Homo sapiens: one gene and its partners. The protein of the gene in region 4 purifies or fractionates together with the protein of the main gene of each other region. This does not show direct contact. Each region holds a gene or a part of one and is shown on either strand. Other genes may lie near its edges. The genes, in order: AFG2B, MYO9A, CCZ1B and CAPN2.

Evidence for each region.
Region 1: the proteins of CAPN2 (region 4) and AFG2B purify together in Homo sapiens (co-immunoprecipitation; 3 studies listed by BioGRID and IntAct, with this or other methods). This does not show direct contact.
Region 2: the proteins of CAPN2 (region 4) and MYO9A purify together in Homo sapiens (co-immunoprecipitation; 2 studies listed by BioGRID and IntAct, with this or other methods). This does not show direct contact.
Region 3: the proteins of CAPN2 (region 4) and CCZ1B purify together in Homo sapiens (co-immunoprecipitation; 2 studies listed by IntAct). This does not show direct contact.

The regions. Positions count from the first base shown.
Region 1 is NC_000015.10:45,412,328-45,419,362, forward strand, and holds part of AFG2B (ATPase family gene 2 protein homolog B), read left to right. Parts: intron 1-2,243; coding exon 2,244-2,453; intron 2,454-3,259; coding exon 3,260-3,452; coding exon of another isoform or gene 3,453-3,478; exon of another isoform or gene 3,479-3,578; intron 3,579-4,941; coding exon 4,942-5,072; intron 5,073-6,229; coding exon 6,230-6,355; intron 6,356-7,035. UniProt on the Homo sapiens protein: ATP-dependent chaperone part of the 55LCC heterohexameric ATPase complex which is chromatin-associated and promotes replisome proteostasis to maintain replication fork progression and genome stability.
Region 2 is NC_000015.10:71,821,759-71,828,153, reverse strand, and holds the end of MYO9A (unconventional myosin-IXa), read left to right. Parts: intron 1-127; coding exon 128-270; intron 271-1,110; coding exon 1,111-1,574; 3' UTR 1,575-5,863; downstream 5,864-6,395. UniProt on the Homo sapiens protein: Myosins are actin-based motor molecules with ATPase activity. Unconventional myosins serve in intracellular movements. Regulates Rho by stimulating it's GTPase activity in neurons.
Region 3 is NC_000007.14:6,798,405-6,802,278, forward strand, and holds the end of CCZ1B (vacuolar fusion protein CCZ1 homolog B), read right to left. Parts: intron 3,120-3,874; coding exon 2,961-3,119; intron 2,672-2,960; coding exon 2,544-2,671; intron 876-2,543; coding exon 820-875; 3' UTR 533-819; downstream 1-532. Other genes in the region: RSPH10B2 (radial spoke head 10 homolog B2), read left to right, coding at 1-139.
Region 4 is NC_000001.11:223,707,597-223,715,550, reverse strand, and holds the start of CAPN2 (calpain-2 catalytic subunit), read right to left. Parts: upstream 3,013-7,954; 5' UTR 2,911-3,012; coding exon 2,674-2,910; intron 1-2,673. UniProt on the Homo sapiens protein: Calcium-regulated non-lysosomal thiol-protease which catalyzes limited proteolysis of substrates involved in cytoskeletal remodeling and signal transduction. Proteolytically cleaves MYOC at 'Arg-226'.

The DNA of each region.
Region 1 (7,035 bases), on a different chromosome or scaffold from region 4:
GAGGCTGAGGTTGCAGTGAGCTGAGGTTGCACCACTGCACTCTAGCCTGGGACAGAGTGAGACTCCGTCTCAAAAAAAAAAAAAATTATAATCTAAAACGGGGGTCAACAGATTTCTGTAGAGAGAGCCACATAGTCAATGTTTTAAGCTTTGTGATCCACAGTCTCTGTCATAACCACTCACCTCTGCCGTTGTAGCACCAAAGCAGCTGTAGACCATATGTAAATTAGTAATTGTATTCTGATAAAAGTATAGACACTGAAATTATATAATTTTCACATGTCAGAAAATATTCTTTTGATTTTTTTTCAAGCATTTACAAATGTAAAAACTATTCTTAGTTTGGGCTGTACCAAATAAAGGTGGAAGGCCTTAGTTTGCCTGGATCTCTGATCTAAAAGACGTTAAATGGATGCAGTACAGGGACTGGTAAAAGCACAAAATTGAAATGAACAATATGGCTACCTGATAGTGGATTTCACAGTGGAAGCTGTGGGACGCAACTCTTCAGATCCTCTCACCTGCGTTACAGTTTCAGAAATTGATTTTGCCAATTCGCCTACATGTGATCCTGCCCTAATGAACTAGGTTTCTCTAACCACACACATAACAGACTGATATATAAGTAATAATTATAATTTATTCATCTTAACCAGGAGATCTATCTCCAGTGAACCCTAGAATTTTTGAGTCCATGGATAAGAGCATTTATAATATGCGCCAATATTTTTTATGCATTGTCTCATTTAATGTTCACAAGATGCATGAGAGAAATTAACCACACCTTCCTGTTGGAAGCACTCTGTTTCCTTAGCTTTGAGACATTAAGCTTTTCTGCCTTTCTGGCCACCCTCTCCCCTCCCTTAAATGTTAGTGCTCAAGAGGCTCCCAGAGTCCTCCTCTTGTTGGAGCTGTGGGTGATTTTATGATGATCTTGATGTCCACAGCATCCCTGAAAACTGTTGACTCAGAAATCTGTATATCTAGAGTAGACATTTCTTCTGATCATCAGAACTACTTCACTGCCTGCCTACTGGATAACCCCAGGGATGTCAAACTCAGCATGTAAAAAGTTCAGCTAGTCAGCTCTGCCCCCACACTTGGATTCCCTACCTCAGTTAATACAGCCAGCCACCCCATCCCCTAAGTCAGAAATCTGTCTTCTAAAGGCATAGCATCAGAACTTTGTCCCTATGTAAAGTACAATTCTGTTTTATGTTTCAAATATCCATCCCTTCCACACCATCTTCACTGCTTGTGACACTCCAGCCTTATTATTTTTGTAGGCTGAATCATTGCAAGAAACTTGTAGCTGGTCTCCCTGCCTCTAGTTTAATTTCCTTCCAGTCCATTCTCCATACTGCTTCCTCAGTGCAGACTAAAGCTTTCAAGGCCTATTGTGATCTGACTCCTACCTCCACTTCAACACCGTTGCTCCTTGCTGGTGCTCTTGAATTACATTGTCTGGGGTCAGTATTGGTTCTGCCACCTCATTAGCAGTAAGACCTAGGCAAATTACTTAACTTTTTTTAGGCCCGAGTTTTTTTGCATCTGTAAAATAATGATTAAAGTGGTTAAAAACCATTTACCTTAAAGGTAATGAGGACTCATTCATTATTCGGTTTACTGTTACTGAGTGCCTCCTTTGGGTAGGTGTCATTCTAGCTGCTGGGGATTTTGAGGTGAGCTTTGCTTACGTTCTAGCAGAGCAGAATGACAAACCCAACGTGGAAAAATAATAATAGTGAATACTTGCTTTAAAAGTAAAGGATGGGCAGTAGCATAGAGAGTGAGTAGGAGGAGGGGGTTCCGCTTTAACCAGGTAGTTAGGAAAGACTAACTCCAAGGAATTGACACCTGCGCTGAGACCTGAGTGATGAGGGATAGCCACACGAAGATCTTGGGGAACGTTCAGGCAGAGAGAAAAGCAAGGAAAGGCTCTGAGATGGGAACAAACTAAGTGTTTAGGAGACAGTCAGATTATATAAGGCCTTGTCAGCTGTGGCGAGTAAGGAGTTTGGATTTGGATTTTATTCTAGTTCTAATAGTAAATCATTGAAGGATTTTAAACAGGAAGTGGTATCACCTGATTCAAATGATAAGATCTCTGCAGTGTGGAGAATGGACTGTTTCCAGCTCATAATAGGAGGCTGAGAATTGTTAAATGAAGAAATGAATTTACTGGATGATATGACATTTTATTATTATACTAAAACAACTCTTCTCTTTTTGTGTACTTTCAGAGCATTGAGTGGCCTCTGAAATTCCCTTGGGAATTTGTTAGAATGGGCCTGACACAACCAAAGGGAGTTCTCCTCTATGGGCCCCCTGGATGTGCTAAAACCACTCTGGTGAGGGCCCTGGCCACAAGCTGTCACTGCTCTTTCGTTTCAGTGAGTGGAGCTGATCTGTTTTCACCGTTTGTTGGAGATTCAGAAAAAGTGTTGTCTCAGGTTTGTTTATTTCCCCATATGTTTAAATTTACTTTTGAATTTTTATTTCATTTCTTATGGACAAACCTTTTTAAAAATATTACTAGTGTTTTTTCCAGTTAAAAAATTTATACGTTTATTGAAAAATTTAGAAAATATAGGAAAGTGTAAATATGAAATCCTTCATAATCCTCCTACCTACTGTTAACATTTTGGTGAATTTCCTTTGTCTTTTTTTCTGTTTTAAATAAAATCAAAGGTAGGTTTTATATATCTATAGCTTTATCCTGCTTTTTTAAACTTAATATTACTACTTTTGAAATTTATAGTATTCTTTGAAAATATGGTTTTTAACTCTTACATAATACTCCATTGTTTCTTGTTTTATTTACTCATTCCCCAATTCATAGACATTCAGAATCTTTTTTATATCTATTTTAAAAATTATAAATAGTGGCCAGGCATGGTGGCTTATGCATGTAATCCCAGCACTTTGGGAGGCCAAGGCGGGTGAATAACTTTAGGCCAGGAGTTCAAGACCAGCCTGGCCAACGTGGCAAAACCCCGTCTCTACTAAAAATACAAAAAAATTAAGTGGACGTGGTAGCGCACCCTATAATCTCAGCTACTCGAGAGACTGAGGCACAAGAATTGCTTGAGCCTGGGAGGCAGAAGTTGCAGTGAGCTGAAATCGCATCACTACACTCCAAACTGAGCAACAGAGCAAGACTGTCTCAAAAAAAAAAAAAAAAACAGGATTATAAATAGTAATATCACATGACTAATGTATAACATATAGCTTTTTAATATTTTTTTCCTAACAAAAGATATTTCGACAAGCAAGAGCAAGCACTCCAGCAATTTTGTTTTTGGATGAAATTGATTCAATCTTGGGAGCTCGCTCAGCCAGCAAGACAGGATGTGATGTTCAAGAACGAGTTCTTTCTGTTCTCCTGAATGAATTAGATGGTGTTGGACTTAAGACAATAGAGAGAAGAGGAAGTAAATCAAGTCAACAGGGTAAATACAAGGAGCTGAAAAAATGAAGAGGTATTTATTAGCCAGAATGCACCTAAAATCCAGGCCAACATTAAATATAATGCATATATGCTATAGCTTTACCTATGCTGAATTCATCTCATAGAAGGATTTATATAATTTCAGTTTGACTTTGTTAGGACTTTTAGAGCTAATAAAAATTGTGATTTGGCTAGGAAAGGTGAGGTACATTTTATAATAAATTATCTTAAATATAAGAATGTGAATTTTATTTTTCCTAAGAATGAGAAATATAATTTTACTTATTGCTAATAGAGAAGGCAGTTTATTCTTGTTTGCATGTCCTAAAAACCAGTATTCATTTCTTTCTAAAAATGTTTATGTAGACTGGGCACAGTGGCACACGCCTGTAATCCCAGCACTTTGGGAGGCCAAGGCAGAAGGGTTGCTTGAGGCCAGGAGTTTGAGACTAGCCTGGCCAACATAGCAAGGCCCCATATCTGAATGAATGAATGAATGAATGAAAAACAAAGGAGATTATTATTTCCAATAGTCTTAGTAATGGAACATTTCCAGTTTTCTTGAGGAATGAGTTTCTTTGGTTTTAATGAATTAAAATGGCCTTTGGAAGTCCCCTCCCTCTTTCTGAGTCTCTTCTCCAGATGAGTTTGGTATCCTTAAATTGTCCCTGATACTTTTTCTTTTATTCCTCTCTCGTTCTCATTCTTTTCCTATTTTAAAAATTGTCATATGGAATTGTTGCATACACTCCTTAGGAATATGTCACACTAGAATTAGGAGGTATCCACGAGGTTATCTAATCAAATCATTTCAAAATGCAGGAATTCCTTCTATAGCATCTGACAGGTATTCACCCAGCATCTGCTAAAATACTTGCAAATATAGGGAACTTTGTACTTTGAGGGATTACGTCACTGGAGAGCTGCCTGATTATTCAACAAATGATTTTGAATGCTTAGTATATGTAAAGCCTTTCTCTGTCTGCTTTTAGACATTTCTTTATCCAGGATTTGCGCACCTGCAACTTAGATTGTCATTTCAAAGAAAAATAAAAGGTCGAGTAAATCTTCCTCTTTAGGGATATGAGAGTCAAGACTTTCTGTAGCCATATATCTCCACCGGTTGGTCATAAGTATCTGTCTTTTTAAGTAGCCTGTTTAAGGTGTAAGCCTTCATTGGAGGCTCAGGTGCACTCAAGTCACCAGATGAGTGTTCTCCCCTTTGGGATAAGGCTTTTCATAGGTTCTCATATGGAGAATGTTTCTCTTAGCTACTCCCTTAGCCATGCACACAAAGTAGCTCTTTGGTTAATGATTTGTTTCTGGGATATCTTGATATCAAGAAGCTGGTCTGGAAAGCGGATATAAGCATTCTGGTCCCAAGAAAAGGATATCCCTATTTGAATTTAAATAGACCTTCTGATTTATAATTTTTAGAAAACTTATTAACAACTGATTGACATTACTTTGTGTTGTGTGTTTGCCCTCAGAGTTTCAAGAAGTTTTTAACCGAAGTGTCATGATTATTGCAGCAACAAATAGACCTGATGTGTTAGATACTGCTTTGTTACGACCTGGAAGATTAGATAAGATCATCTATATCCCACCTCCAGATCACAAGGTAGTCATTTACACATTTACTCTGTGTGAGCTCAGCAGAATTGAATTCCAACTTGGATATAGGTGTCCATGGTGTTCTACTTACCCTGGGTTCCGCCTTCTTCCTTGCCTGGTGGCCTTTCATGACATCATAATTTTGATCTTCCTTTGTTGGATACTCTGATCTTGTTCACAGAGAAACATAAGCCTAAATATATGGTGGTTATTTTTTGTGTTGTGGCAGACTCTAAATACTGAGTCTACTCAGCGTTATTTTGCAACTAGAGTGGAGGAATCCTAAAGTGTTAAAAGGGCTTTGAAGATTGAGTCAGCATCCTTATCATACAGTGCAGAAGTCTGAAATTACAGAGATTATGCAGTGTATCGTGGTCAACCAGTAAATTTGTTGTCCGTAAAGTACGGTGCAGAAATCTGAGATTACAGAGATTATGCAGTGTATCATGGTCAACCAGTACATTTTTTGTCGTTAACATCCAGAGCCACTGACAGGGAGGGTGAAAGGCACAGAGTGAATTTTTTTGTTCCTTGGGCTTTTATCAAGTTTTGAAGGGATAGAAAAATAAAATTTAATATCTATTATACCTTTAAGTTGTATCTGATAATTCATGTATTTGCTTCTTAAGCCATGTCTGATAGTATTATTTGTACCCAAGAGAGAGATTTAGCCGGGCGTGGTGGCTCACATCTGTAATCCCAGCACTTTGGGAGGCCAAGGCGGGTAGATCACCAGAGGTCAGGAGTTCGAGACTAGCCTGGCCAACATGGTGAAACCCCATCTCTACTAAAAATACAAAAATTAGCTGGATGTGGTGGCAGGCGCCTGTAATCCCAGCTACTTGGGAGGCTGAGACAGGAGAATCACTTGAACCCGGGAGGTGGAGGTTGTAGTGAGCCAAGATCGTGCCAGTGTACTCCAGCCTGGGTGACAGAGCGAGACTCCATCTCAAAAAAAAAAAAAAAAAAAAGATTCATAAGTTTTTTATGATGTCGTTATTTTTACCATTGTCATATAAGCCATTGATGACTTAGTCTTTCTAACCCCTATATATATTTTCTCGGTAATGTGAAAGGAAACTCAAGCTAAAAATATTTTAATAAATCATTGTGTCAAACATAAATGTTATAAGATTTAAAATACTGTTTTTTATTTTGTTCCAGGGCAGGCTTTCTATTTTAAAAGTCTGTACAAAAACCATGCCAATAGGGCCTGATGTCTCCTTAGAAAACCTCGCAGCAGAAACCTGTTTTTTTTCTGGAGCTGATCTTAGAAACCTCTGCACAGAAGTAAGTTAATTATTGAAGAAATTTGTGGTTCAAAACATTTCTGCATCTTTTCAAATCTTCATTCACTCAGCAGTATTTACTAAAAGCCTGTGTGGTACCATGTGATGTGAAACAGACAGATGTGGCCCCATCCCTCACACAGCTTATTGTAAGTGTGGGGTGGTGAGGAGGGTGGTGCAGAGAGGCAAATCTTAATACTGAGTTGGCAATTGAAAATATGTAGTGAGTTGCGGAAGTAGAGGGTACTGTGGGAGCACCTAGGAAAGACACCAGCCCAGATTTGGCACATCAGAGAAGGCTTTCTGAGAAAGGAGATGTATAAACTGAAATTGGAAGGACAAATCGGGAGTTAGCCAGCTAAGAAGGGAAGGGGGAATGTTTGAGGTGGAGAGAATAAAATGTGCAAAGGATTGAAGATAAGAGATGGTGTGACATTATTGAATCTTAGAGTGGAGAATGGCAAGAAATAAAGCGAAAGAAGTGGGCTAGGCGTGGTGGCTCGTGCCTGTGATCCCAGCATTTTGGGAGGCCAAGGCGAGAGGATTGCTTTAGCCCAGGAGTTTAAGATCAGCCTGGGTAATACAGTGAGACCCCATCTCTAGAAAAAATAAAAAATTAGTCAAATGTGGTGTTAGTCCCAGCTACGTGGGGGACTAGTAGTCCCAGCTACTTGGGAGGGG
Region 2 (6,395 bases), on a different chromosome or scaffold from region 4:
GATGGGGACAGTAAAAATGGACTCTCTTTGCTTCTTAGATTCCTGACTTCCATGGAGGATCTTTTTTTCTGTTATCTTCCTTCCACTTCCTATCAAATGCTAATGGTTTCTTGATTGTGTCTTACAGGGAGGAGCTAACATTTGAGATGCTTGTACTGGAACCCCGTGCCTCTGATGATGAAACCCTTGAGTCTGAGGCCTCCATTGGGACTGCTGATAGCTCAGAGAATTTGAATATGGAGTCTGAATATGCTATCTCTGAGAAATCAGGTAAGTGAACATGGTAGACCAAAGACTCCAGATTTGTTTTGCAAAGGAGGAATAAAGATTCCAAAACTAAGACAAAGTCTTTTAAGAATTTACTGACTGTACATCAGCAATAACAAAGTCTTGAGGAATTTTGTCCTTTTATCCATATAATTTTAGCCTTCATCGTTTGGCATACAGGTAGTGACCTGGATGGGGATAAGAAATATAAGGGGATAAGAAATATAATTGTCTTTGCTACTTAGATTCCTGACTTCCACGGAAGGTCTTTTTTTTCCTGTTGTCTTTGTAAAGCTTCCATATACATTGTTTATCAAACCAACTCTTCAACGTGATTGAGTTTTTTGTTTTTTGTTTTGTTTTGTTTTGTTTTTTGGTAATTTAATGTTTTATCCTGTACTTACCACAGAGAAAAGCCAATAATCACAATATATGTTGTCTTACTGACCCATAACCCATTTTCTGAGGGTGGCAGGCATTGTGCCCCCACTGTGAGGTGGGACTATATACATATACAAAGGAGGTGTTTAACTGGGTGGCATGTCTCAGGGAGATGTAGGACTTACCTGCATATCCTGGCAGTTTTTGAAATGATAGTGACTGTTCTAGGCCTCCGCTGATGGCATAGTCAAACACCAGATTTCCTTGGAGATGATTCGGAAATGCTACATAGAGAAATGGATGGTGAGCTCTTACTGTGACTGTGCCCATAGTAAGTCATCCTGGACCCTCTGAATCTTATCCCACCCAATTTCATGTGTGAACAGTGGCATCTATTCATTATATGATGATTTGCTTTAGAGGGCACTGTCATTTACATCTTTGGTCTCTTTTTTGCATTAGAAAGAAGCTTAGCCCTTAGCTCCCTGAAGACAGCTGGCAAGTCTGAACCTTCCAGCAAGTTGCGAAAGCAACTTAAAAAGCAGCAAGACTCTTTAGATGTCGTGGACTCTTCGGTCTCCTCTTTATGTCTGTCTAACACGGCATCATCTCATGGGACCAGAAAACTATTTCAGATTTATTCCAAATCTCCATTCTACCGAGCTGCCTCAGGTAATGAGGCCCTGGGAATGGAAGGACCATTGGGCCAGACCAAATTCCTGGAAGACAAGCCTCAGTTCATCAGCAGAGGAACCTTCAACCCGGAAAAGGGCAAACAAAAATTAAAGAATGTGAAAAACTCACCTCAGAAAACCAAAGAGACCCCAGAGGGGACAGTCATGTCTGGCCGCAGAAAAACTGTGGACCCAGACTGCACCTCCAACCAACAGCTAGCACTCTTTGGAAATAATGAATTTATGGTCTGAACCGGCAGATGTGTGTCCCTCCGTGGCTACAGAGTGGTAAACAAATCTCACCTTTGGGGCTGCGTTTCATCACCTCGTCCACAATAGTCAATCCTAATTGTGGTCCTGCCTCTTTTCTAAGCATATGGCTAAGACTGTATGTGCTGAATTCCTGGGCCTCCTGCAGAAGCAGAAAGCCTGCTGGGGATGGTGCCAGCTGTGCCTTGGCTGTTGTATTTGAATTGAGATTTTTACTATACAAAGCCACCTAGGGCCTGGGGATTTGGGTCAGTTGTAGTTGCCTCTCCCCCACCCTCTTTTCCCTTCCCAAAGGTGGGTGTTGAACTAGGGGGGATATTGCTGTCCTGAGGGACCCTCTCATTTCTGACATTTGAAGAAAACGTATAAATCTTTCTTAACCGTGAAAGCAAAAGCCTTTGGGTTTATTTTGGGATAGTTAGGAGCTAGGGTAGAATATAATTTTTTTCCAAAAACTTACTTACAAACAAAAAGCCTAATCCCTCTATTTTAAGATTTCTGAAAAAACACTCCATGTTATATTCTGGGGAAAGCAAAAACAAAAAAAAAAAACAAAAAAAAAAAAACAAAAAAAAACCGTGATTGTTTCCATTAAGCCATCAGAGCGTGTCTCAGATATCTTGTTATACAGTGAAGAAGAGAATACCTATTTTTTTTGATGATGTTTGATGTCATAGTAATCAGTGCTGGTTTAACTCCTGTTTAGTTCCTGCCAAATACATTGCATGGGCTGAAGTGTCAGTAGCCATACTGTTCTCATGTTTCTTGGTCCTAGGATCAGATTCTTCTACATTATTTTTTAGTTTCCCAGAGACATGGTGATCCCTAAACTTATGAAGGTTTCATCCTAAGCCATTCAGGCTTTTCTCTTTGTATAGATTAAACCGAAAACCGCATATGAGCCTGTTCATCTGCTGGTGGATTCCCACCACAGACTCAGACTCAAACAAACAAACAAATAATGTGACCGTTTAGTTAGTTTCCAAAAACATTCACATACAATATTGCATGAATAAGTAAGTAAGTGTTACAGAAAGCTGCCAAAAAATAAAAAGGTTTTTAATATGACCTATCTAACTAACTAACTTTTATCTTCCTTTTCTCAGACTATCAGTATTAAATAGATGGAAAAAAATCAAGGACTACTTGAAGCTATTTTTGTTAATATTCTGGTTACTGAAGTTTATTGTAAATATGTATGTATAGTAGGCATATTTCTTTTTAACCTTGTGCTTCCCTCCTTCCCATGGAATTTCTTCCCACAGATGAGGGGCCACTGGACAGGGGGATGAGAGCCATTCGTCCCTGGGTTGAGGGAATTAGTAAGACATCATTTTCACCACTGGGTGGTCTTCATACACATGAGTTATAATAGCATTTTAAGTATCTTAGCATTTGTGGGATTAGAAATCTGTTTTTGCTATTTATAATATATAAAAAATGAAACATGATAGCCTTTCTTGAGATAAGTATGTGAAATGTTTATTTTTAAAGTTACTAAATGCATCTTGTCTTGCTACTACATGCACTGCTCTGAAAAAGAGCCTTTACCATCTATAACCTGTATTTTGGGTATTCTTCCTTTTCATACTTCTTTGAAGTTGTGGAAATATTAAGTCTTTTGTTAAGGCAGAGTCTCTCTCTCCTGTTACACAACACTGAACCTCACGCCACTGCCTCAGTGGTTATTGGCCAGCCCCAGAGGTTAGACTTGGAGCATAATTCTGAGTGGCAGCTAAAGGTAGCAGGAGTCTTACCTCTCCCTACTTTGGGTTCAGAATTGAGCCAGAGAAAGGAAGCCATTAAAATCTCCAGAATAATGATAGTTAATGAGCAAATGTTATGCTTTATATCCCACAGACATCTGCCACCTTGTTCATCTTGTCCTGAGGAGTAATAAATAATGTTAAGCTTTTAAAAATCTGAATTTCAGAGAATCTCCTAGAGGATAGAGGAAAACCCCTCAGCATGGTGTGTTAGAGTGGGATTGCTGGTTCCTCAGCCCCGTGCCAGGTTGCACAGTCTGTGTTTCAGTGTTCTTGGGAGAGTAGTGTACTGCTGGGCATTAATTGTTACTCTGCACTTGCTCCAGAATGTTGGTTAAATCCTGTATGAAAAAAAGAGATTGCCCTTATGGAATAATTTCCTGTGGCCCAGAGGAATGGCCAGAAGAACATATGTTGGCACATGTTCTTCCTTCTAAATCTTTGTGGGGCTTTTTTGGCAAAATAAGTTTTTTGGCAGTTAAAAAACGACTGATGTAGGTCACTTTAAAGGAACTAGGTGATGGATGTTAAGAGACTTTATAATTTTTCTCAGGGACCTGAAACTCCAGTTTGGATAAAATTCAATTAAAAAAACTTGTTTTTTCAGTTGCTAGATTTGTGGATTTCTAGTAATTTAATCTGCCAGGATTGGGGTGGGTGGGTGAGGAGGAGAGAGCCACAAAATGATAAGAGTGGAGAGCAGTGTGGGGCCCTCCCTTTGAGGGAAAGCCGTTGTTTACATAGGGTAGTAGGCCTTGTTGGCCTGATCAAGAGATGAAGCCATAACTCTTAAAAACCTTCAGAACCAAACGCTGTGTCTGCATCCATCTGTTCTCACTGGCCCTCTGCATGGTAAAGTTATGTCACCACAAAGTGATGCCGCATTACAATCACTTATGAAACTGTTAGCCCTTAATATGCATCACATTTGTGGTTCCATAGTGCTTCTCCTTTGCTTGTTTGATCTCTGCATGGCAGCAGTGGGGCAGCTCCACATTTGGAGCCCATACTCCAAAATGCAGAGCACTCTTCTCACAGCACACATTCCCAGCCCCAAACAAAACCTGAATTTTCAACTCTGCCCATTAAAGTGAATGTATCCCTGTAATTTAGTATGTACTTATTATGGAAAATGTAACAAAAGCAGAGAAGTGTGATTTCATTCTGTATCACAAATTGAAGCAAATCAACAGCAAATACAGCAGGATTCAGGGAGGCTTAGTTTACAACGTACTTTGTACCTCCTGCCATTTAAATTATTTTGCCACTCTGGGCTTCTGAAAACACAAAGGGAGATACAGCCCTCCAACTATGAGCCTTGCAGAGAGAGACAAAAGGGCCAGAGGTCCTGGGATGGAATACTAGAGCCCCCACCTTCTCATGCTTTGGAAACCTGCCAGAGCACTTACCCTGCTGGAAGATTAATGAAGACTCCATTCTGTGTTTCATAACAGTAGCGTTGTTTTCTCCATCAAAAACAGAGGGTCACAGAAATGTGCTGAAAAGATGTGGTCCAGCAAGGTTCTGTAGTCCCACCTCAGTGCCTGTGGGCTGTGTTTTTCACTGTAACAAGCACTTTGGTAAACTAGAAAGAAGAAAGGATTCTCAGGATGTGTTCAAAGCTAAGAGAGTTTTCATTTTAAAAAGAAACATACATACTCACTCCATGGCTTTCCTCATCCTCCTCTCTTTTTTCTTCTTGGTGGGAAGCTGGATGCGGGGCATGCATCATTCTGTATGGACAAATGTGTTATGTCCACCCATACTCTTGTGACAACTCCCCAGCACTGTCCTGCAATACCATGCTGGCCTTGGTAGTAAAACTCCTTGGTATCTGTGAGAGTCCTCTTTTTCTATGCCCTAGACTACTTTTAACCACTTTTCTCTGGAATGACTCCCACATTTGATTGGGTATTGAAAGGGTAACAGCAAAATGATGATTGTGGAGATGGATCTATTAGGTCTCATGTTGGTCCCCTGGTTGAAACTATTTTCAAAAAAGCCCCAACAATGGGCCTGTCACCTTGCTAGTCATCCATTCTTAATGCCTATTTATCAGCCCTCTGAGGTCATATAAAAGTTGCACCTTTTGAACCAAGTATTTGTATTTACTATGGGAAAGGTGTGGACTACAGATTCGTATTATATTATTTTAATGGATTTTAAGTAATTTATAAGTATGCTGAGTGTAAATTTTTTTTAAAAACTGTATTATAAAAGGACATATCCTGTGAAATATAACATTTTACTGTTTAATAGAATAATTCTATAAGAAGAATGATTTATCTCACCCACGGAACTGATTACATTCCGGATGCAATCAATAGGCACTTTGTAATTTCCTTTTTGTTTTTTTTTCTTTGCTGGGGGGTTGAGGGGTAACAAGATACCATCTGTATAAAGTGCAGTTTGTGTCACTCAAAATATGCACTGTATGGCTACACAAAAGCAGCTTGATGAACAAATCACCCCATGGCTCATTAAAGAACAAAGCTTCCAGAAGCAGCAATATGTGTGGTTTGTTTTCCAACCATCCTGGCTCCCACTCCAACTATTCCAACCCAACTCCAAGAAACAGCAGTGACTTCTTAGTTACACTGATGTGTTTTCAGGAAAGGACTCAACCCAAAGTTGACAAAGCACAGAGGTGGTAGTCACTGGAACTCAACTGAATTCAAGTGAAGGTGTGATTCAAGGTGTCGTTTTTTCTGTAGTGGATGCAGGCTGCTGGCTGTCAAGACTTCATTTAATCGGTTTAAGGCTAGAAGGGAGGAAAAGCAGTAAATCTGCATTTAGGATCCTCCCCTAAATTGGCCACTTGAAGAAGTTGCTAATAGAGGTTGCCAATAGAGGGCCCAAGGATTCTCACTGAAATTCAAAGCAACACATTGCAATAGGAACAGAAATTTTAACTCAGTTTGTCATTTTTGTTCTGCTACCAACTTTACTGCATGTCTGGGAAAGGCATTCGCTCTCTCTGAATGTTAGTTTTCTTATCTGGAAGTCAGTTCTGTTTCCCAAACTCCCAGCTTTGGAG
Region 3 (3,874 bases), on a different chromosome or scaffold from region 4:
TGACTATGAGGTGGACATCACAGTGCTCAAGGAGCCGGCAGACGTGTCATCCTCTCACCTCATACTGGACCCTCCCAAGGAGGATGTGACCGTGTCCCCATCCAGCAAGACCATCACCAGCAAGAAGAAGAAAAAGTAGAGAGACACGAGGACACACACACAGGCTTAGGATGGCACGTGCTGTAAGATTTCCTGAGCATTACAGTTCTTAGCACTGAACTCGTCACAGTGTTTTAACATACCCCTTGGCCCACTGCATCTCAGGTTTCCTACATGGCTGGATTACGGGAGTTCGAGACCAGCCTGGGCAACATAGTGAGACCCCCCCATCTCTGCAAAATTAAAACATCAGCCGACCGTGGTGGTGTGTACATGTGGTTCTAGCTTCTTGGGAGGCTGAGGTGGGAGGATTGCTTGAGCTCAGGAGGTTGAGGCTGCAGTGAGCCATTGCATTCCAGCCTGGGTCACGGAGCTGGTGGCCAGTGTAATCTATAAATAGGCAGCAGGAGAGAGACTCAACACCAAACCAGAATTTTAAAAACTTTTAACAATTTATTAGTCTTATTTTCCAGTAAAATATTCAAATAATGTCAAAAGAATGAAATGATAGCGATATAGCCAACTACCTTTAATTAATTCCACATAAATATTTAAAATCTAAAAACCTCAGATCAGCAGACCGAGTCGAAATCTGATTCTTCAAAGCAAGTATTGCTTTACCCTTGTCCTGAATGCAGTCCGTCATATGACCACTAACTTGCATGTGACCAAATGTTTGCAGAGTGTTTTTTAGATATGCTCTCGGTGAGCCGTCATCCGTCAATCCAAGAAGAAGATGTTGTTGAACTGCGTTGCACAAAGTTTCTTGACCTCTTCTGCAACAAGGACACAACAGTGAGGAAGGAAGAGGCAGTCACTTAAAAGGTTACATAATATATAATTAAATTCTTCTTGGGTAAAATTAGGAAGAGAGATTTGCATTGATTTTGACCTTAAATCCCAGAAGACTAGGCAAGAATTTTTTTTTTTTTTTTTTTGTTTGAGACAGAGTCTTGCTCTGTCACCCAGGCTGGAGTGTAGTGGTGTGATCTTGGCTCACTGCAGCCTCTGCCTCCCAAGTAGCTGGGACTACAGGTGCACACCACCACGCCCTGCTAATGTTTGTATTTTTTGGTAGAGACAGGGTTTCGCCATGTTGGCCAGGCTGGTCTCGAACTCCTAACCTCAAGTGATCCGCCCACCTTGGTCTCCCAAAGTGCTGGGATTACAGGCATGAACCACTGTGCCCAGCCAAGAAATGTTAACAAGTAGAAGAGGGGAAAAAATCCACCTACAAAACCTACCAGGCCTCAGGAGTTTTGAGCCTATCAACACTGCTGCCCGGGGCCTGAGAAACTGCAAAGTGCCCGGGACACCCAGGGGAGGGGGTTAGAAGCACAAGGCTGGTGACACACACCAAGCACAAGGTTGTCATCCTGGGACAACTAATGGAACAACAAAGAAACGGACAGCAACCTTGAGCTGCAGACCAAGTGCTCCGCAGAGGGGTCAGGATTTTGATCTTACCACATTCACAGTTTAGATCAGGCTTGCATTAACTGATGTTTCTAGTGCGCACAATGACTAACACAGGTATTACTAATAAAGAGAAAAATGTAGTATGCCCAAGATACAAGGGGAAAAAAACGCTTACACTGAATTTCCACACAGTGTACACGTGGGGCATCTCCCAAGGGGGCAGCTCTGCCGAGGTGAGGTCCCCTCTCTCCAGGGCAGCCGAGCTATCAGCACCGCAGCTGCCGGGTCACCCCGTGCAGTGGGCAAGGCTGGCCGCTTTGGCGGGAAGGCAGGAGAAAATGTCTGCCTCCTTCTGCCTGTGTACAGAGGGATACTTGTAAACGGCTATGTGAACCCGGCAGCTTCTCCCTACAAAAGATATGTTTTTATCACAGGATATTAAAAAAGGACATTTTGGGCTGGGCAAGGTGGCTCACGCCTGTAATCCCAGCTCTTTGGGAGGCCAGAGGATCACTTGAGGCCTGGAGTTTGAGCCCAGCCTGTGCGACAGAGCAAGACTCTGTTTCAAAAAAAAAAAAGAAATTAGCTGGGTCTGGTGACACATGCCTTGGTGATACATGCCTGTGGTCTCAGCTACTCTAGAGGCTGAGGTGGGAGGACTGCTTGATCCTAGGAGTTGGGGGCTGTGGTGAGCTATGATTGCACCACTGCACTCCAGCCTGTGTGACAAAGTGAGAACCTGTCTCCAAAAAAAGGGGGACATTTCTTAATATAAAGTCATTTTTTTTTTTTTTTAGAATTGTAGAAAATAATTTTCTTTCTGCCATTGCCAAGTTTCCTGTGCTACAGGAAGGTCTTGTCATAGTTTTCCAAGGAACAGAAAATGGATCAAATGTGGAGCAGAGGCACCTGCTTAGAATCTCAACAGTCATGATTTGTTCTATTTACCTATTTTTTAACCATGTTTCTTAATGCAATGAAAAGACAACTTCTCAAATTCTCCTGAAATACCAAATCCTACTTACCATTTACTTCAATCAGGTTTGCATTTTTTTGATTCAAAATAACATAGAGCTCCCGCCGATCAGACTTCTTTCCAACAACCCAGTAATCACTCATGGCCTTCACAATGATCTCCTCATCTTCATCCACTCTGCAAGACGAGGGTCAAAATGCAATTGTTCGTTACTCATACGGCCAGACTGTGAGAATAAGCGTTCCAAACCAAGAACAGGAAATGGAACGGGCGCACGTGGCATTTAAAAGGCTCAGGGAGTGCCGCGCGAGGGAACCGGTGACTTCAGGGCTCCCGGGTCTGTTTGGAAGCGGCGCCCATGAAGGTGGTTCACGCTTGAACCCCATGGAAAGGGCTTGAAGGGATTTTCTGTGTCTTTTCTCGTCTTAGAAAGGGGACGCCTGATTGGAGAAGTGGCTGGAATCACCTGGTAAAGTCACTGTTGATGTCACCGAGAATCTTCATTAAATCCGGGTGCACGGAAGTGAGCGACACGCTGGGCGTTTTCCTCATGTGAACTGTGCTCTTCTCGGCGAGATTCATGTGGTTGAAGTAGATAAACTTAAACTGGGGTTCTTTCTCAGACCTGTGAAAACATGTCACGAAGACAGTAGCACTCGGGCCGGATACAACTAGATTCTTCTTTTAAAATTTTTTTGAGATGGAGTCTTACTGTCGCCCAGGCTGGAGTGCAGTGACACGATCTCGGCTCACTGCAACCTCCGCCTCCCTGGTTCAAGCGATTCTCCTGCCTCAGCCTCCTGAGTAGCTGGGATTACAGGCGCCCGCCACCACGCCCAGCTAATTTTTGTATTTTTAGTAGAGACGGGGTTTCACCATGTTGGCCAGGATGGTCTCGATCTCCTGACCTTGTGATCCACCCGCCTTGGCCTCCCAAAGTGCAGGGATTACAGGCGTGAGCCCCCGCGCCCGGCCCTGGCCCTCTTTTTCTAAACAAAGTTTCACGGGAACCTCGCCATTGCCACATGTTCATGTGCTGTCTGTCTGCTTTCCCACCAAAATGATAGTTGAGTAGTTTTAACACGTATCTACATATAGCCCGTGACATCTGAGATACTTATTATTGGGTCCTTTACCGTAAAAGTCTGCTGACCCCTGCTTGAGGAGAGTAACACCTCGTTCCTCCCACAGTGCGGGGAATGAGTGTCCCGTGGAAATTAACCTGCCTCATGAGGGAAGCCTACGACACTATGTAACGAAGCTTTCCCTCATATCATCCCCAGTGGACATCACTGTAAAACGCAGTCGCCTTTTCCACTGCAGTCTGATGAACATTTTAAATGGGATATACCTTTTTATTTCTTAAACTGACTAGGCAGT
Region 4 (7,954 bases):
CTCCGAGGAAGAGCAGCTCCTCCTGCTGCAAGGCTAACCTGCTCCCCTCCCCTGCCCACAACCCGTATTCTCACTTCCTCAGGGATCCTGTTTCACTGCCCCCTCCCTGCCTTTATCTTTAATCCCTTCTTCCTGGTGATTCAACATATGACACATTCAAGTTGTTCTCATATGAAAAAAACACAGGCTCTCAAAGTCCAGGTCCTACTCTACCTATCAGTTCTCCTCTCTTCCCGGGGGTCCTTCTTAAATAAGTTGATCATGTTCTTAATTTCCAGTTCCTTTACTCTGGAGTCTACAACAATCTGGCTTCTACTCTCACCTTTCCATTGAAATTGCTCTGCTAAACTCACCAATGACTTGCTAGTGTTCAAATCCAGCGGAAACAACTGTGCTCCCCTTGCCTGACCTCAGCAGCATTTGAGAAGGTAGGAAGGAGGCAGAGAGCGCAGCCATAAGGGGTAGGCTCAACATGCACAGACTACACACAGTCCTGGATCTATGCCCTATATCCACTTGACTCTGAGCAAGTATTTAACCTTCCCAAGCCTCAATTTCTTCAACTGGCAAATGGGGATCGTAAAAGTCACACTCTTCCTTAGTTGTGCAGTGCACAGCCCGCCTGCCCTAAGCAGTGGCGCTAGATCATCTCTAGACCTCTACATCCTCATCTGGAAGTCCCACAGGCATTTCCAACTGTTGGGGGACCTGTCTCTGTCCCCTCACTAGCCTCAGAAGTAAGTCTTCAGAAGCAGAAACCATATGCATTGTGCCCAGCATATAGTAGGTATTCGAGAAATGCTTACTGAATGAATGAAAGAATAAGTGAATGAGTATGTGAACTCACTATGTAAACTGTAAAGTGCCATGCAAATGTAAAGTGAACACATTCTCTTGGTTTGTGTTTCACTTTTTTTTTTTTTTTTTTTACTTTTTTATAGAGACAAGTCTTACTGTGTTGCCCAGGCTGGTCTTGAACTCCTGGCTCAAGCGATCCTCCCACCTTGGCCTCCCATAGTGCTGGGATTACAGGTGTGAGGCACTGAGTCAGGTCAGCGTATCACTTTCACAACCATAATTTCATTTGAGGCACATTACAATCCTGCATCCATATTCTACAAACAGTCACTTCTTTTGTGTTCACTGGTGTATCTCCTGAGCTCTCAGGACAGTGCCTGGCATGTAACAGGTGCTCAATCAGTGTTGTCAAATGAGTGAGTAAATGAATGAATGAATGAATGAATGAATACTGTGAAAGGCATGGTTATGTGTCAGGCACTGGGGATATACTGGTAAATAATATACACATGATTCCTGCAGTTCAGTAGGAAGAACAAATACATGTGATTATATTCTAAACTGTGACAATGCTATGAAGGAAATGAGTGGGGTGACAGAGAAAAACAAGGTGGGGAGGTGGCTGCTAAGAAGGGTCAGAAAAGACCTCTTTAGGAAGGGAACATGTGACTAAGTTGGGAAGAATGAGAGTGAGCCACACTCCAGGTAACAGCGTGCCTTGCTGGTGAGAAGGCCTCATGCAGGAAAGAACCGGCTCTTTGAGAGACTGAAAGGAGGCCATGACGGCAGGGCCTAGTGGGCCACAAAAGAGAGAAAATATTTAGGCAGCATGTTTTCTTTTAGATGAAGACATGGAGGCACAGAGAGGTTAAATGGCTCGTTCAAGGTCACCAGCAGGTTAGCAAGAAGAAGAACCCAAGTGCTCTGAGTCTGGGCTAGGGCGCTTCCTGCAGCCCTTGCTACCTATGGGCTGGATTTAGGGTAACAGAAGGTGACCTGGGAGGCTGCTGGGTGTGGAAGCAGAGCTGGAAGCCTTGTTCTCACAACAGGAATCTAGAAGTTGGACTTCAGGGCAGGCTTTCCTAGGCGTGGTAGGGGAAGCCTGGGGAAGTGTCCCAAAGGAGGAGGAGCCTCAGGGGTTCCCCAAGAAACAGAATGGACAAGTAGATTGGGGAGCACAAGTTGTCCCAGGGCCGGGAGGTCAGAGACCCTGGGGGACGGGATAAGGGGGTCTGGAGGGCTCCCGGAGGTTTCCCGGGTGATTCCCGCCAGGGAAACCATGAGACACCTCCGTGTCCTGGGTTAATTACCAGTGTCAATGTTATGAGGAGGTATCGCTGGCTCCCCTTTGGAAAAATAAATCTAACCCCAGGGCTGCAGGAGACTATCCTTAGTCACAAAATGACCAGGCTATGGCCTGTCCCCCTCCATGAACAGACAGAACCCCAGTTGGAGACGGACTTTGTCTGGTAGATGCTGCCTCTCACCGTCCCTTCCCTGCAGACCCGATTCCCCTTCCCTTCCAGCTCCCCGCTAGAGTCCAATCAAAGTTTCACCCCGGCCTCCTGCATCACCCTGAGTTTTTGTGAAGTCCTAAAGTGGCCTGCTAGTGGGATCTGAGGGCAGTGATTCGCCTCGACCCGCCCAGGAAAGCGTGGTGGGTGGAAGAGAGGGAAGGCCCCGGGAGTCCCCCCACGCTCGAACAGAGTCCCGGGCTCTGGCGGCGCGGAGGTGTCGCAGGACTGCGAGGTCCTGGCTTGCGGCTTCCCCACTGCAGCACCCGGGCTGCCCCCCGCCCCAGCGCGCCGCGGGCCGGCCTGCACCCCGCCCTGCCCGGCACCCCGCCCTGCCCGCGTCCTGCCGCGCGCTTCCTACCGTGGGGCGCTTCCACTCGATGCCCCGGGTTTTGCTGGAGTAGGGCCCCAACTCCTTGAAGCCCAGGGCCGAGGGGATGGCCGGGAAGGACGGGTCCTGGAAGAGCGTCCCGGCCTCCAGGCACTCGTTCCGCAGCGCCTCGTAGTCCTGGTTGAGGTACTTGATGGCCCTGTCGTGGGAGCCCAGCCCCTCGGCCGCCTCCCGGTCCTTCGCCAGCTTGGCCGCGATGCCCGCCATGCTGCGGTCCCGGCGGCCGTACTGCGCAGAGAAAGGTCGGGGCGACTCCGCGCTGCGCTCGGCTGGGGCGCGGCCAGGGCCCGGCGCGCTGCTGCGGCCACTGCGGGCGCCGCCGCTGCGAGCGATGATTCACCGGAGGGAAGCGGCCCGGCCCGCGGGGTGTGGCCTCAGCCGCTCCCGGCCTGCTGGGCTCCCGGCCCGGGACCAGGCCATCCTGCGGCCTGCCGAGCGCCGGGAACGCCGCGACCCGGGGCCGGTGCTGCCATCTGCGGACAGCTCCCGGGATGGCGCGGCCCGGCGCCGGGGAGGCTCGCGAATCGCGGTCCAGAGTTGGGGCTCCCACCGGAACCCGAGGCCACCTTTGCAGCCCATAGGGAAGAAGGCTAGGATAGTTGTGGCCGTCCGGAAAACACCCGGGGAGTTAGCAGAGGGTCAGGTAGTGAAGTCGAGGAAACTAAACCAGCTGCCCTGAACTTTGTGCCAAACAGCGTCTTAACGGCTCTGCATACATCATCTCATTTAATCCTCCCAGCGACTCTGAAGAAGGCGCTGATATTGTCCCCATTTTACAGATGAGAAAACTGAGCCTCGGAGACGCTAAATGACGTCCCCAATGTGGCACAACAGTCACAGGCAGAACAGGGACTCTAAGCCACCGGAGGCCTATTGCAATCACAATGCTGCAATTACTACTGCTCAGCTGTTTATTTGATTATAGATAGGGTTGTCAGATTTGGCCAATAAGGCTGGGTGCGGTAGTTCACACCTGTAATCCCAACACTTTGGGAGGCCGGAGGCAGGCGGATCACCTGGGGTCAGGAGTTCGAGACCAGCCTGGTCAACATGGTGAAATTCCGTCTCTACTAAAAATACGTCGTGGCAGGCACCTGTGATCTCAGTTACTCGGGAGGCTGAGACAGGAGAAACGCTTGAACCCAGGAGGGAGAAGTTGCAGTGAGACGAGATCGCGCCACTGCGCTCCAGCCTGGGTGACAAAGCGAAACTCCATATCAAAAATAAAATAAAATAAAATGATTTGGCCAATAAAACAACAACCCTCCCAAATGTTTAATTTGAATTTCAGATAAACAACAGATACTTTTAAAGTATATGTAGGGCCCAAATATTGCATGGGCATACATACTTATTCTAAAAGAAAATATGATTCATTGTTTACCTGAAACTCATATTTAACTGGCAGGATTAGTTGGGTTACTATAGGGAGAGAGCATTTAGAATACTGCCTGTGTTGGCTACTGTGACCACTCTGTTGTGGAGCTAGGGTGTGATTCTCATCTCACACACAGAGACATGGGTGCGTGCCAAGAAATGCAGATGGGCAGAAATTACCTCCTCTTCTTCTCTACAGTAGTAGGGAAGAATTTGGGTTTCACTGGAAAACTGTGCATGGTCTACAGCAGTGGTTCTCAACTGGGGGCAGTTTTGTCCCCTACCCACCCCAGGAGACATTTGGGAATGTCTGGAGATAGTTTTTATGGTCACAGCTAGGAGATGAGGTGCTACTGGCCTTTACTAAGTAGAAGCCAGGGATGCCGCTGAACATCTTCCAATGTCCAAGATAGCTCTTGTGAACCCAGAAAATCTGAAACAGGTCTCATTTAATTTAGAAAGTTTCTTTTGCCATGGTTGAAGATGCACACCTGTGACACAGGAAGTCCTGAGGACATGTGCCCGAGGTGGTTGGGGTGCAGCTTGGTTTTATACATGTTAGGGAGGCAAGAGCCATCAGTCAAGTACATTTAAGAAATACATTGGTTTGGTTCAGAAAGGCGGGACAACTCAAAGTGGCGGGGGGTGGTGGGTGGGTAGTGGGGGTGGCTTCCAGGATATAGGTAAATATTTAAACATTTTCTGGTTGACAATTGGTTGAGTTTGTCTAAAGGCCCAGGATCAATAGAAAGGAATGTTTGGGTTGCGATAAGAGGTTGTGGAGACAAAAGTTTTATCACATAGATGAAGCTTTTAGCTAGCAGGCTTCAGAGTGAACAGGCAGTAAAATGTTTCTTATCAGACCTAAACTCTGGTTGATGTTCACGCTGGAGAGGTATAATGAAGCATGTCCGACCTTGCCTTTCCTTCATGGCCTGAAAATTTCAGGTTAAAATTTTAAGAGCCTCGGCTAAGGAGGAACCATCCATTTAGATGGTTGGCGGGGGTAGGGGAGGGGGAGGCTTAGAATTTTATTTTTGGTTTACATTCTCCACCCAAAACATGATCTAGTCCAAGACATCAGTCATGTAGAGGCTGAGAAACCCTGGTTTAGAGCATCTCCTTCCAGAAGATCTGGGTCTAGCCTTTCATTGTTTTTGTTGTTGTTGTTGTTGTTTTTGTTTTTCTTGAGATGTAGCACCCTGTCACCCAGGCTGGAGTGCAGTGACAGGATCTTGACGATCTCAGCTAACTGCATCTTCTGCCTCCCGGGTTCCAGCGATTCTCCTGCCTCAGCCTCCAACGTAGCTGGGATTACAGGTGCACACCACCACATCTGGCTAATTTTCTATATTTTTTGTAGAGATGGGGTTTCACCGTGTTGGCCAGGCTGGTCTCGAATTCCTGACCTCAGGTGATCCGCCTGCCTCAGCTTCCCAAAGTGTTGGGATTACAGGTGTGAGCCACCACACGAGCCCCTTTCATTGTTTTTGAGTTATTTTATAACTCTAAGTTGTATATAACTGTAGCAATGTATAGTTACCTAAGTAACTCTAAGTAAGTAATCTAAGTTGTAGATAACTGTAGCAATGGAAAATAATTTTTCCTATAGATATGCAAATGCATTCTGTCCAGTAGAGGCACTACAGTCCCCCTGTAGAGAGACCAGTTTTTTGTCTAGTTGCATATTCCATTTCAGTACTCTTCACGTCATGTAAATTGTGCTGCTTTGGTTTCTCCTTTGAACCAGTTATAACATCCACCAGATTGCCTCGTTTAATCAAGTTAAATGGACTCTTTTTTTTTTTTGAGATGGAGTTTCACTCTTGTTGGCCCAGGCTGGAGTGCAATGGCACAATTTCGGCTCACCACAACCTCCACCTCCCAGGTTCAAGTGATTCTCCTATCTCAGCCTCCCGAGTAGTTGGGATTACAGGTGCCTGCCACCATGCCTGGCTAATTTTGTATTTTTAGTAGGGACAGGGTTTCTCCACGTTGGCTAGGCTGGTCTCGAACTCCTGACCTCAGGTGATCTGCCCACCTCTGCCTCCCAAAGTGCTGGGATTACAGGTGTGAGCCACTGCACCCTGCCGAAATGGAATCTTTAAAATGTGTTTATTTTATACTAATATGAGAGCCATGATGTTACCTTTTCTTAAAGCAAGTATTTTTGTCACTATTATTCCTCTGCCCCCATCTATTCTTGTCTCTGACACCCATTGCTTACCCCCTTTGCTTGACAAAACTTTGGTCAGACTTCTCTCTTTCCTACAGATCCCTGAATGCTGCTTGCCCCCAAGCCTGAACAAGCACAAACAAAGTGGAGTGTCCCTGCCAAGTCACTTCCCTGCCCAGCTTCTCCTGGGAATTGACTGAACACAGCAAGACCCTTTTCCTGTCAGCTCCCACTGGTCATTTCCCCTCACTTGTCCAGCTTCCCCTCCCAAGAGTCTGCTTATCTCCACTTGCTCCTCCTTTACCCTAGAAAAGAAGAATCTTTTTCTGTTTGATTTTGAGCTGCTTGCAGATTCTCTGAATTGGAATTGTCTTTCTCTCTTTTTTTTTCTTTTCTCTTCTCTTTTCTTTCTTTTCCTTCCTTCCTTCTCTTTTTCTCTATTTTTTCTTTCTTTCTCCCTCCCTTCTTCCCTTCCTCTCCTTCTCTCCTTCTCTCTTTCTCTCTCTCTCTCTCTTTCGCTCTTTCTTTCTTGTTTCACTCTTGTTGCCCAGGCTGGAGTGCAGTGGTGCAATCTCCACTCACTGCAACCTTCGCCTCCCGGGTGCAAGTGATTCTCCTGCCTCAGCCTCCTGAGTAGCTGGGATTACAGGTACCAGCCGCCATGTGCAGCTAATTTTTTTGTATTTTTAGTAGAGACGGGGTTTCCTCATGTTGGCCAGGCTGGTCTTGAACTCCTGACCTCAGGTGATCCACCTGCTTTGGCCTCCCAAAGTGCTAGGATTACAGGTGTGAGCCACTGCGCCTGGCCTGCAATAGTCTTTCTTTCTATTGAAGTGTCCCTTTATAAAAGTCTGGATTTTTTTTTTTTTTTAAACAGAGTTTCACTCTTGTTGCCCGGGCTGGAGTGCAATGGCGCGATCTTGGCTCATTGCAACCTCCGCCTCCCGGTTCAAGTGATTCTCCTGCCTCAGTCTCCCATGGTTTTGTTTTTATTTGACATCCTCCATCTCTGGTTTGCAAGTCTGGGCATGCTGCCTGATGGGCAGGTACCACCGTCCACCACCAGGCTTTGCTTTCTTTACTCTTGAATAAGGCGGGGACACAGGTTCCATTGTGTAATGGTTGGCACTCTGGACTCTGAGTCCAGAGATGGGGATACAGGCATTCATTTCTAGCTCATGGGTTTCTGGTGCAAGGGTTTCATGAAGCCATCACAATTGAAAACAGAGGAAAGCGACAGCCCTGTCCTGGAAGCTGTTCATTTGTTCCACTGTCTGATTTCCATTGGCCCCACCCCGACTTCTTCTGGGCTCGAGGCTCTTGGGAGAAAGCTTGTCCTTCTGCCCAGTGGGGCAGAGCGCAGGCTTCTCCTCCCACTGATCTCCTCAAGGACAGCTCATCTCTGGAGGAAGTGACTCCTCCCAGGCAGGTGGAGGTCATTTCCCTCCTAAGTCATTTTAGCAACAAATGGGCAGATCAGACCTATCATTCCAGTCAACTCAGAAGCTTTGCACAGCCTGGGAGCAGAAGAGCCTCCTGGCTCACCTGAAGTTCCTCTTCCCCAGCTAGGCAACACCCTCTTTGGTGCAGCCCTGGCCACTCCCCTTGCCAGCCTTCTAGGGATCGCTGCGCACATAGAGCTCTGCTTACAAAGGGCTTTAGGCTGTCCTATGCCACCCAAATTTAATTGCAAACACA